3 separate regions of the Homo sapiens genome follow, and all the other regions are reported to be linked to region 3. The links are microRNA targets in miRTarBase. Many come from high-throughput screens and were not tested one by one. Region 3 holds a microRNA gene; each other region holds the end of a gene's coding sequence.

Region 1 (3,223 bases), not on the chromosome of region 3:
CCCAAGAGAAGCCTCCTTCAGAAGACAAATTTGATCTGGTGGATGCTTATGGGACAGAGCCTCCATACACCTACTCAGGGAAGAGGTCCTCCAAGTGTCGCGAGTGTAGGAAGATGTTCCAGAGTGCTTCGGCGCTCGAGGCACACCAGAAGACCCATTCTCGGAAGACCCCATATGCCTGCAGCGAGTGTGGGAAAGCCTTCAGCCGGAGCACTCACCTCGCCCAGCACCAGGTTGTCCACACAGGGGCGAAGCCCCATGAGTGTAAGGAATGTGGGAAGGCCTTCAGCCGAGTCACCCACCTGACTCAGCACCAAAGGATTCATACTGGAGAGAAACCCTACAAATGTGGGGAATGTGGTAAAACCTTCAGCCGCAGCACTCACCTCACCCAGCACCAGCGGGTGCACACGGGGGAGCGGCCCTACGAGTGTGACGCGTGTGGGAAAGCCTTCAGCCAGAGCACGCACCTGACTCAACACCAGCGCATCCACACCGGGGAGAAGCCCTACAAGTGTGACGCGTGTGGCCGAGCCTTCAGCGACTGCTCAGCCCTGATCCGACATCTGAGAATCCACTCTGGAGAGAAGCCATATCAGTGTAAGGTTTGTCCGAAGGCCTTTGCACAGAGCTCCTCCCTCATTGAGCACCAGAGGATCCACACGGGAGAGAAGCCTTATAAGTGCAGCGACTGTGGGAAGGCCTTCAGTCGTAGCTCAGCCCTGATGGTTCACTTGCGGATCCACATCACGGTGCTGCAATGACCGGAAGTCGCCCCTGGGGGCGTAGCACAGCGTCTTCTCGGAGGCTCGAGGTCTAAGAGAAACGCTGAGTTCCTGAAGAGCCACAGACAGGGTGGGTGATTGATGAGTTGTCAAAATGATAGGTGCCTGAGGGCAGACTCGGGCTGTCTAGGAACCACTCTGCATTTGAGGAACCCTGATGAGCACAAGGTGATTCAGGCCAGCTGGAGAAGCTTCCAGAAGGGCCCTGCACTGCTACCCTCTATTTCCCACTCAGGGCTGTCCCAGAGAGAAGGCAGCCGAACTGAGGATTTAGACTGGTTCTGAGGGCCAGGGCAAATGAAGGCGCATGTCTCTCAGAACTCAGCGTCCCAAGACGCTCTGGGCGGGCCAACTGTAGCTTGTTCTCATGTGGTTCTTCTTGCCTGCTTTTCTGCTGCTTAGCCCAGAACGGACACCTGCCATGCCCACCTCTGTGCCTTGGCACCTACTATTTCCACTCCAGACTATTTTGTGCCTAACTGCAAGGCTGACTTTTGAGACTGCCTCTTCCACGATGCCTTTTCTACACTCTGCCTCTCTCATGGTTTCCTGTCGTAATCAGTGGTGCTGCTTGACACCTGCCCAGCATGTTCCTGTCTCTCCTTTTCCTTCCACATCCCACCAGTCACCAGCGCTATTGTTTTAACCTAAAGCTTATCTGTAATTCACCTCCTTTTCCACCACTGCTACCTTATGTGAGCCCTCATTGCCTCTTGCCTGGATTATAGCCGGGGTCTCCTTCCTGACCACTTCCTGCCTTTATTCTCTGCCCCTGTATCACTCTCCAGGGGACTCTTGATATTACTTAGATCTGACTGTGTCACTCCAAGGTGGAAAGCTCTCCAACCCATCTTCTACAGCACAGCTTCCTGAACAGGGTATAAGTATGCTGAGATGCAGGCTGCTCTGGGCCCCGAGCAACCTCTCCAGTTATCCTCATATGCATGTATGAATACTGTCATTTTTCTGTGCGTGCAGTGAAAATGGCCTCATCTCATACCATGGCTCCACCTTCCATACACCAGCCACACGGAACTACTGTGGTCCCTGAAGGAGCCATACATTTTCCCACTTATGTGCCTTTGTACCTGTGCCTGGAACCCTCCTCTTCTTTTTCTTTTTCTTTTCTTTTCTTTTTTTTTTTTTGAGATGGAGTCTCGCTCTGTCGCCCAGGCTGGAGTGCAGTGGCGCGATCTCGGCTCACTGCAAGCTCTGCCTCCCGGGTTCATGCCATTCTCCTGCCTCAGCCTCCCAAGTAGCTGGGACTACAGGCGCCTGCCACCACGCCCAGCTAGTTTTTTTTTTTTTTTGTATTTTTAGTAGAGATGGAGTTTCACCATGTTAGCCAGGATGGTCTCGATCTCCTGACCTCGTGATCCACCCGCCTCGGCCTCCCAAAGTGCTGGGATTACAGGCGTGAGCCACCGCACCTGGCCCTCCTTTTTCATCTAAGGTGTTTCAAATGTTGCCCAAAGAAACCTCCCTGCTCTCCGGGAGCAGACTTCAGCTTGCCCTCTCTGCTTCCAGAGCACCTCCTAGATACCTCTCTTACAACTCCTGCCACCTTGTTTTACTTATTTGCTCCTTGTAGAGCTGCCTTTTCCAAGGATACCATAAACTCCTGAGAGCAGGGGCCATGTCTTACTCTCAGTATCTACAACACACAAGACTCAGTAGGCCCTGACTGATGTCTCTTACATGAATGTGACTGGTGCCCCCAGGAGGCAGTCACCGTGCTGTCTCTGCCCCACATTGTCCTTATGTATGTTTACATGGATGTCTCCCCAGCAGCTTGAACCCTGGAGAGCAAGAATAATCTGATTTTCCTGGGGGCCAGCACCCAAATAAGCCTGGCATGCAGTGGCCTCAATAAAATGTGACTGTATTGAGTCATTTTCTAGGGCCCCAGATCCCCTGGTGTCATGGACTTAGTCTTTGCCAGCATTCTGTCCATGTGTTCTCTGGTCTTCTCTCACAATGCTGCATCCCTGTCCCATTTTTAGGGTCCCTGTCTATCACTGGATGCTGCAGCTTCTGTTCATTACTGTTAGTGTATCATTCTTCATGCCTCTGTTTCTGTGATGGTCTCATCATATGTGAACCATTTGACCTGGCGTATTGTGTACTAGTCACCGTCACCATCTCTCCATATGTATCTCCCTGTATTTCGGGCCCATTCCCTCTATGTCAAGAGTAAATAGAGGCACAGAGACTGATGAGAAACGTTCATAACATGAAGGTAAGACTCAGGGAGACAGAGACTTTGTGGAAGTATCTCTGAGGGAGTCCCAGACACAGGCAGAGAGGGCCACATATCGTGTGCCAGAGGCTGAGAGACTGAGAGGGATGACAGGCTTAGGGGAAAACTCAGAGAGGAGAGATGCACATTCCTAGTGAAATTGCACAGGCTTCCAGCATGCTGGAGGGAACAGAAAAGG
Region 2 (3,246 bases), not on the chromosome of region 3:
CCCTGGGCTGCCATCCCTAGCTTAGCTTCCTGCAGCGGGAGTCGATAGGAGCTTCTCGTCCTGTTTCAGGACCCGCCCTCCACTGAAGGGCCAGCAGGTCGCGGTGACTTGTTCTTCCTGTCTCCTCTTCCTGCAGGTTGTGGATTCCCAGCTGGTGTGCATGATGAACGAAAACAGCATTGATTACATTTCTCGGTTCAATGACCTGGCCCAAGAGCTGTCCATCGCTGAGCCTGGCCGCCGAGAAGCTCTGTTTGATGGTGGTGGAGGCGGCCCCGCTGTCAGTGACCTGTCCCAGTGACCACACGTCCTGGTGGCGGATGAAGCCCTCTTCGAGCTAGAGAAAAATAGATAAGCCCAGCAGCCCCAGAAGATGGTCTGAACAGAGGCATCTCCGCACCCAAGACTGTGCAACGGGCAGGAACGTGGTCACAGAGCTGCTTCCCCACGAGCAGCAGGCAACGGCGTCCAAGGAGACTAGGATGAGTTCTTGGCAAGGGCCAGCGTTAGAAATCACTGTGGTACTAGAGCCGTTCTTCACCACGCCTGGGCCCATGTTAGGGTCTGCATAATGATCCCATTTCAGCCTGTGCTCTGCCTCGATTGTTGTGTTGGACATTCCGGTGGCATTTCCTTCTGAGACAAGGGAGTATGTGTGCCTTGGTGTAGTTGCTGTGCACTAGGAGCTGTGATCTCCCTCTCTGCAGGGAGGCCCCAGCCCCTGCTGCTTGCTTTCTGCCAAACCTGTGCTATGCATCAGCTGTGCCCTCTGTGGACTGTAACGGGCAGGACAGTTGGGTGTGGCCTGGGCTCATGCCTGGTGGTGTCACATCCCAAGGCAGCAAGAGCATGGATACCGATCACAGGGCTGCTGCGGAGTCGTGGGGCCCTGGGCTGGTGCCTCCCCTCCCTAGAGGTTTTGTTCGTACTCTTAACAGGGAGTGGGGGCAGGAAGAGTCCTGTACTATGCAGGTTGTGTGGACTTTACATGGGACCCTGCTAAGCTGGTTGAAAATGTTTTTCTTGTGTTTTAAGAATTAGGAGACATGGAAGAGGAAGAACAAAGTCCCCTCTGTAGTTGGTTTCCTTCCTGTGTCCCTTTGCAAGCTTCCAGGCGATCTAAGGTGTCATTTCTCCCTCCTGGGGTGACCCTTAGGCGCTAATATGATTACAGCGAAGACTTTCCTGATAAGTTCTCAAACTCGATGTGTGACTGTTTGGCACTTGAGACAAACCTGCCTTTGCAGGGAAAGTGTCTCTCACGGGCATTGGTGTGGGCGTGCCTGACATACGTGTTCAGTCCCTTGCATACCTTTGCCTTGAGACTTCTGTGTCTCCTTCCCATTTGGGACACCCAGGTGAGGGCCCAGACATCTGGATGTGGTCAGACCTCACCAAATATATGCCTTCGTGGTGGTCTCCCTCCTTGCGCCCTCTTGGGTGGCCAGCGTTCCTACTGCAGACGGCCCAACATCCAGTCTTTCCCCAGGACAGAGCTAACAAGGGCCCCTTTGCCTTCTCATCCTCAGGAGTTCCAGGCACATGAGTCACCGTCCATCCACATCCAGTGTGGCCTGGAGCTGCTACAGAGGTGTTGGGCAGGCCATGCCTGTGCCGCCATCTCTCCCTTCCTGCCTCATTTCATCCCCCGCAGCAGCCGGGATTGATTGTGCTTTCCTAACCCCCTTGGACCTACTCTCCCTCCTCCCCACCATTCCTCTTCCCCCACATGTGTGGCACGCTGCAGCCCTCAAGGCCAGCCCTGGCCCCTCCACTGCTTCTCTCCCCATCCACAATGGAGAAGGTGAAAAGAGGAGGGAAAGGCCTTTGGTGTGGACAAGCATGTGGACGCCCTCCGTCCTGCAGTCTTGCCAGCCCACCACAGCCACTGTAGACCACAGGCAGGCCGTGTACTGCACCACTGGGAGGACGTGGAGAGGACAGTGAACTTCCAGGCAAGAGCTTCCTTCTTTTGTCTCACGAGTTTTTCTTAGAGCTCTTGCCTGAGCTGGCTTCCCTCCTTCAGACATTGACATGAGATCTTAAGCAAACAGTCCCAAACCTCTTAGGGGTGAAAAAAGAAACATGCCACTTGATTAGGAGAGAGACAGCAGTGTTTGAACTACAGCATCTTTACACTAGCTTGTGTTTTGTGCTACGTATACCAGCTTCCAAAATTAGCATCTCATTGAGCCAGAGAAGACAAGGAGATCTCCCTCTGGGCATCTGGCTTTGCTGCGTCTCTAGAGGGTTAGGATACCAGGCCGAGTTCAGGCCACTGCTAGCTTTCTCATACTCCCACAGGCTAGACCAGAGATGCCAAGTCCCAACAGCACTGAGCTGTGTGCACTGTGCCAGGGACAGGAGGGTTTGTGAACTGCCTGTCAGGGTACCTGTTAGCCCCTGACAACTCAGTGGGGTGAAGTTTTGGAGGTCAGAGTCTGCTTTCGTAGGCTCTTTAGACAGCACCTACCACTTGGTTCTCCAGCGTAGACTCCTGGGAGCAGCCAACTGCAGCCATTGCCATCCAGTGGGGAGATGGGTTAGGGAGGAGGACGGGCTGACTCCTCTCCTGTAATAAAGCTGACAAGAGTTCTAGAGGATTCTGCTTCTCTAGTAACTAGACAGGTGATACGCATTTGCTTGCCACATTAAGGGAAAATGGTGTCATTTGTTGCAGAAAAACAATGGATACATTTTCTTCTGGCCTAAATGAATATTTATGTGCAAACATAGGCAACTGTTAAAGGCTGGAATTTTCAAAAGATCCAAACAGAGACTTCCTGCATCTTCTGCCTTTCCAACAGAAGCGGTGATCGTCTAAGTATGAGCCTGTGGCTTCCTTTGTGCATTTGAGCATGCTGTAATTAAGATGAGATCAGTTTCTTAGAAAAAGCTTTCCTGAATCCCTCTGACGTTGCCTGGGATCTTTCTGTTGATTCGTCTTTTCTGGAGATTGGGACAGAGCATCTGTGGTCCAGGGAAGTTAGTCCTCTGGCCTCAATTCTGTTGTGGATGTGCAGTGATAAGCGGGCATTGCGTGCCTCGGGGGATGCCTAGTTCGTGGCTTCCTGGCTGTTTTGTCCTTCTGTGTCTTGTAGCTGTAGGGTGCCAGCTCAGGGAGTGGGGTGTTGGCGGCGTTTCCGCGGTTGGCCTCCTTGCTTTGCCGCACCTCCAGGTTCTGGGCATGAGAGGCCGTGGCCTCATTTCTGGTGGATAACCTTTTTAGTTTAATAGCATCTTTAA
Region 3 (3,253 bases):
CTCCCTCTCAAATTTATATGTACATTCCCAGCTTCCTCCCTGAACTTCTGACTCTCATGTCCAATTCGTATACTTGATACCTCTACTTGAATGTTTAACTGTGTCAGAAGTTAACCTGTAAAAACGTAACTCTTTATTTGACTACCTTAAATCTCTTCCTCTCCTCCTCCTTATTCTCATTTCAGTAAACAGTCTCATCATCCAGCCCGTTGCTCAAACTTAAAAATTAAGAAACCCTTAATTCTTTCCTTCCTCTTGTTTCTCAAAACCATCCCTGAGCAAGTACAAAAGGTATCTCAAATCTGTCTACTTCCTTCCAACTCCACTGCCTCCACCATAAAGCCATCATTCTCTCTTGGGTGAATTATTGCAATAACTGGTCTCCTTGCTTTCTTCTACAAGCATCTCTCTACCCAGCAAACAGGGAGATATGTTTAAATGTAATCCCCTACTTAGAATCCATCAGTGACATCCACTGCATTTAGAATAAAATCGGATCTCCTTATCCCTACGTGATCTAACCCCAGTCTGCATCTCCAACCTAACCTTGTCCTGTTTTCCCCTCACTCTTTACAGTCAAGTCACACCAACCCCCTTTCTGTTTCTTGAACACTCTGAGGTCTTCAAGGCTCCCAGGCCTATATCCCTGATGCTCCTCTACCTAGAATGCTCTTCCTACACCTCTTTCCATAGCTGGCTCCTTCTCATCCTTCAAGTCTCAGTCTGAATGTCATGTCCTTGGAGAGGCCTTTCCTCACTAGTCTACCTAAAGCACCCTCTTCCTTTACTCTCTACCATAACCTACTTATTTTCTTCATGATGCCCACTAAGAGTTTGATATTCATTTAGTTTATTGTTTGTCTCCCCATCACCAAAACGTAAGCTTTATCAGGGTGGGGTCCTATCTTGTATTTCTAGCACAAATATTAATAGGTACTCATTTATTTGTTGAATAAATTAACCAGACCTCTACATAAAGATGTACATACAATAACGTTTATTGTACCTTTTTTCATTTTGTAGGCTGGGGATAAATGAATAGAATAATAGTTTCTATCCAATCATTTTCCCTAGCCAGTTTCAATGTTCCAAAGTTTAATTAACAGAGCAGGGAAGCTACCCTGAACTGAACTTAACACTTTGGAATTTTGCAGCATTTTTATGCTAGCAAAAAAGTAGACACACTGAAATGTTTACCAATAGGTTTTTATTACAGAGTATTCCATGTAAGAGCTATGCAGTAAATAGAAAGATGGCCTGTGTGTCAGATATCCTTAGCCTCTTTAGAGTCACTCTCCTTCCTCTTCTCCTTGCTCTTTCTCTCCCAGTGTCCAGTTTGCATAGAATGAGTAGAACTTGACCAAGTGAACAAACACAGAGGAGGCATTCTAGCCCACATGCACATAGATCTAGGGATAAAAGTGTATGGTGTGCTGGAGAAACAATAAGTGTGTCCTCCTCTGCTCCCACTACAGCTGGTCCCCTTGTCTGTTACAATTACTATGTTGTAGTATTGTAGCCATTCTCATGTGTTTCTTCTAACCAGGCTCCTAGACTCACACTTTCAGACAACAGAGAAGCATGTCTTTACATCTCTATACCCTCAGTACCTAACACAGTAAGCTCTCTTATAGTGGCTGCAAGAAGAAATCTGCTTTTATCTATATTTTACTAGTTTAAAGGTTACTTTTTTTTTTAAGCGATGGGGTCTCGCTATATTGCCCAGGTTGGTCTTGAACTCTTGGGCTCAAGAGATCCTCCTACCTCAGCCTTCTGAGTAGCTGAGATTACAGGTGCAAGCCACCACACTTGACCAAGGTTACATTTTTAAGACTGATTTATATGGTCATTATATAGACCAAATTTGTCTGTAGAAAAATTAGTCAAACAGTGAGTGACTTAAAACTGTACAATACTGTGGCTGAGGGCATAATTAAATCTTTATTAAAACTGCTACCATTTCTTTTTGTTTTTGTTTTGCTTTCTTGAGACAGAGTCTCGCTCTGTCACCCAGGCTGGAGTGCAGTGGCGTGATCTTGGCTCACTGCAACCTCCACCTCCCGGGTTCAGGCAATTCTCCTGCCTCAGCCTCCTAAGTAGCTGGGAATACAGGTGTGCACCACCACACCTGGCTAATTTTTGTATTTTTAGTAGAGACGGGGTTTCACTATGTGGGTCGGGCTAATCTTGAACTTCTGGCCTCATGTGATCCACCCACCTCGGCCTCCCAAAGTGCTGGGATTACAGGTGTTAGCCATCATGCCCAGTTTTAAAGATATATGCCTATGATGATCTGAATCTGAACTAACTTCCAGATGTCTCACTAAAGGCAATGCATTTTTTCACATAAGAATAAATTTTGGCCGGGTGCAGTGGCTCACGCCTGTAATCTCAGCACTTTGGGAGGCTGAGGCGGGTGAGGTCAGGAGTTCAAGACCAACCCAGCCAACATGATGAAATCCCGTCTCTATTAAAAATACAAAAATCAGCCAGGCGGGGTGGCGCATGCTTGTAATCTCAGCTACTTGGGAGGCTGAGGTGGGAGGATCACTTGATCCTGGAAGGTGGAGGTTGCAGTGAGCTGAGATCATGCCACTGCACTCCTGCCTGGGTGACAGAGCAAAGCTCCATCTTAAAAAATAATAATAATAAATAAAGAATAAATGCCCATTTCTAATAAATGAGATACTTCAATAAAAAGTGTAAGAAGTAAATTCCAAGAGAATTTGAATTAGTAATACTTACCAACACTAGCATGATCAATAATAGTGTCAATATCTTGTAGACCCCATTTCTTATAAGCTAATGGTGGTGGTTGTATGTTCTCATTGCCTGATGCTGCAGCTACCAAAGATAAAATAAGACAATCCAAACTTATTATGGATAAAATGAAGTTTTACAAAAAAACATTAAAACCATACTAATTTGTTATTCTAAAATTTCAGCTAATAATGACACAAAGTAATGAAAACAAGGCATAAGGTGAGATTTATTCACACCAAGACAATGCACGTAAAATGCAAACATTTAAAAGACTAAGTTGGCTGTCACAAAAGATTCTGGAACACTCCAGTAATTAAAGAAGACTATTAAAAATCCTAGACTACTACTAAAAATCAAAGGGAATTCAGGCCGGGCATGGTGGCTCATGCCTGTAATCCCAGCACTTTGGGAGGCCGAGGCAGGCAGGTCGCTTGAGGTCAGGAGTTTGAGATCAGCCTGGCCAACATGGTGAAACCCCATTTCTAGTAAA

The links. Region 3 holds the annotated microRNA hsa-miR-664a-5p (ACUGGCUAGGGAAAAUGAUUGGAU, at 1,056-1,079, opposite strand). A microRNA usually pairs through its seed, bases 2 to 8, with sites in the 3' UTR of a target mRNA and lowers its output. Matches are read on the target gene's strand: a 7mer-m8 pairs with bases 2 to 8, a 7mer-A1 pairs with bases 2 to 7 and ends in A, and an 8mer does both.
Region 1: the mRNA of ZSCAN22 is a reported target of hsa-miR-664a-5p. Seed matches in the 3' UTR shown: 7mer-m8 at 2,128-2,134.
Region 2: miRTarBase lists CRAMP1 as a target of hsa-miR-664a-5p. Seed matches in the 3' UTR shown: 7mer-A1 at 2,192-2,198.

The regions. Positions count from the first base shown.
Region 1 is chr19:58,338,563-58,341,785 of GRCh38, forward strand. ZSCAN22 (zinc finger and SCAN domain containing 22) reads left to right here. Exons shown (of 3, transcript NM_181846.3): 3 at 1-3,223. The coding sequence ends at 764. Among named protein-coding and RNA genes, the nearest start is that of MIR6806, 5.5 kb to the left of the region's middle. RefSeq lists an enhancer at 1-450.
Region 2 is chr16:1,673,745-1,676,990 of GRCh38, forward strand. CRAMP1 (cramped chromatin regulator 1) reads left to right here. Exons shown (of 21, transcript NM_020825.4): 21 at 137-3,246. The coding sequence ends at 301. Among named protein-coding and RNA genes, the nearest start is that of JPT2, 2.9 kb to the right of the region's middle.
Region 3 is chr1:220,199,531-220,202,783 of GRCh38, forward strand. MIR664A (microRNA 664a) reads right to left here and starts at 1,089; the gene lies at 1,008-1,089. It overlaps RAB3GAP2 (RAB3 GTPase activating non-catalytic protein subunit 2), which reads right to left. Exons shown (of 35, transcript NM_012414.4): 9 at 2,746-2,844. SNORA36B (small nucleolar RNA, H/ACA box 36B) reads right to left here and starts at 1,146; the gene lies at 1,016-1,146.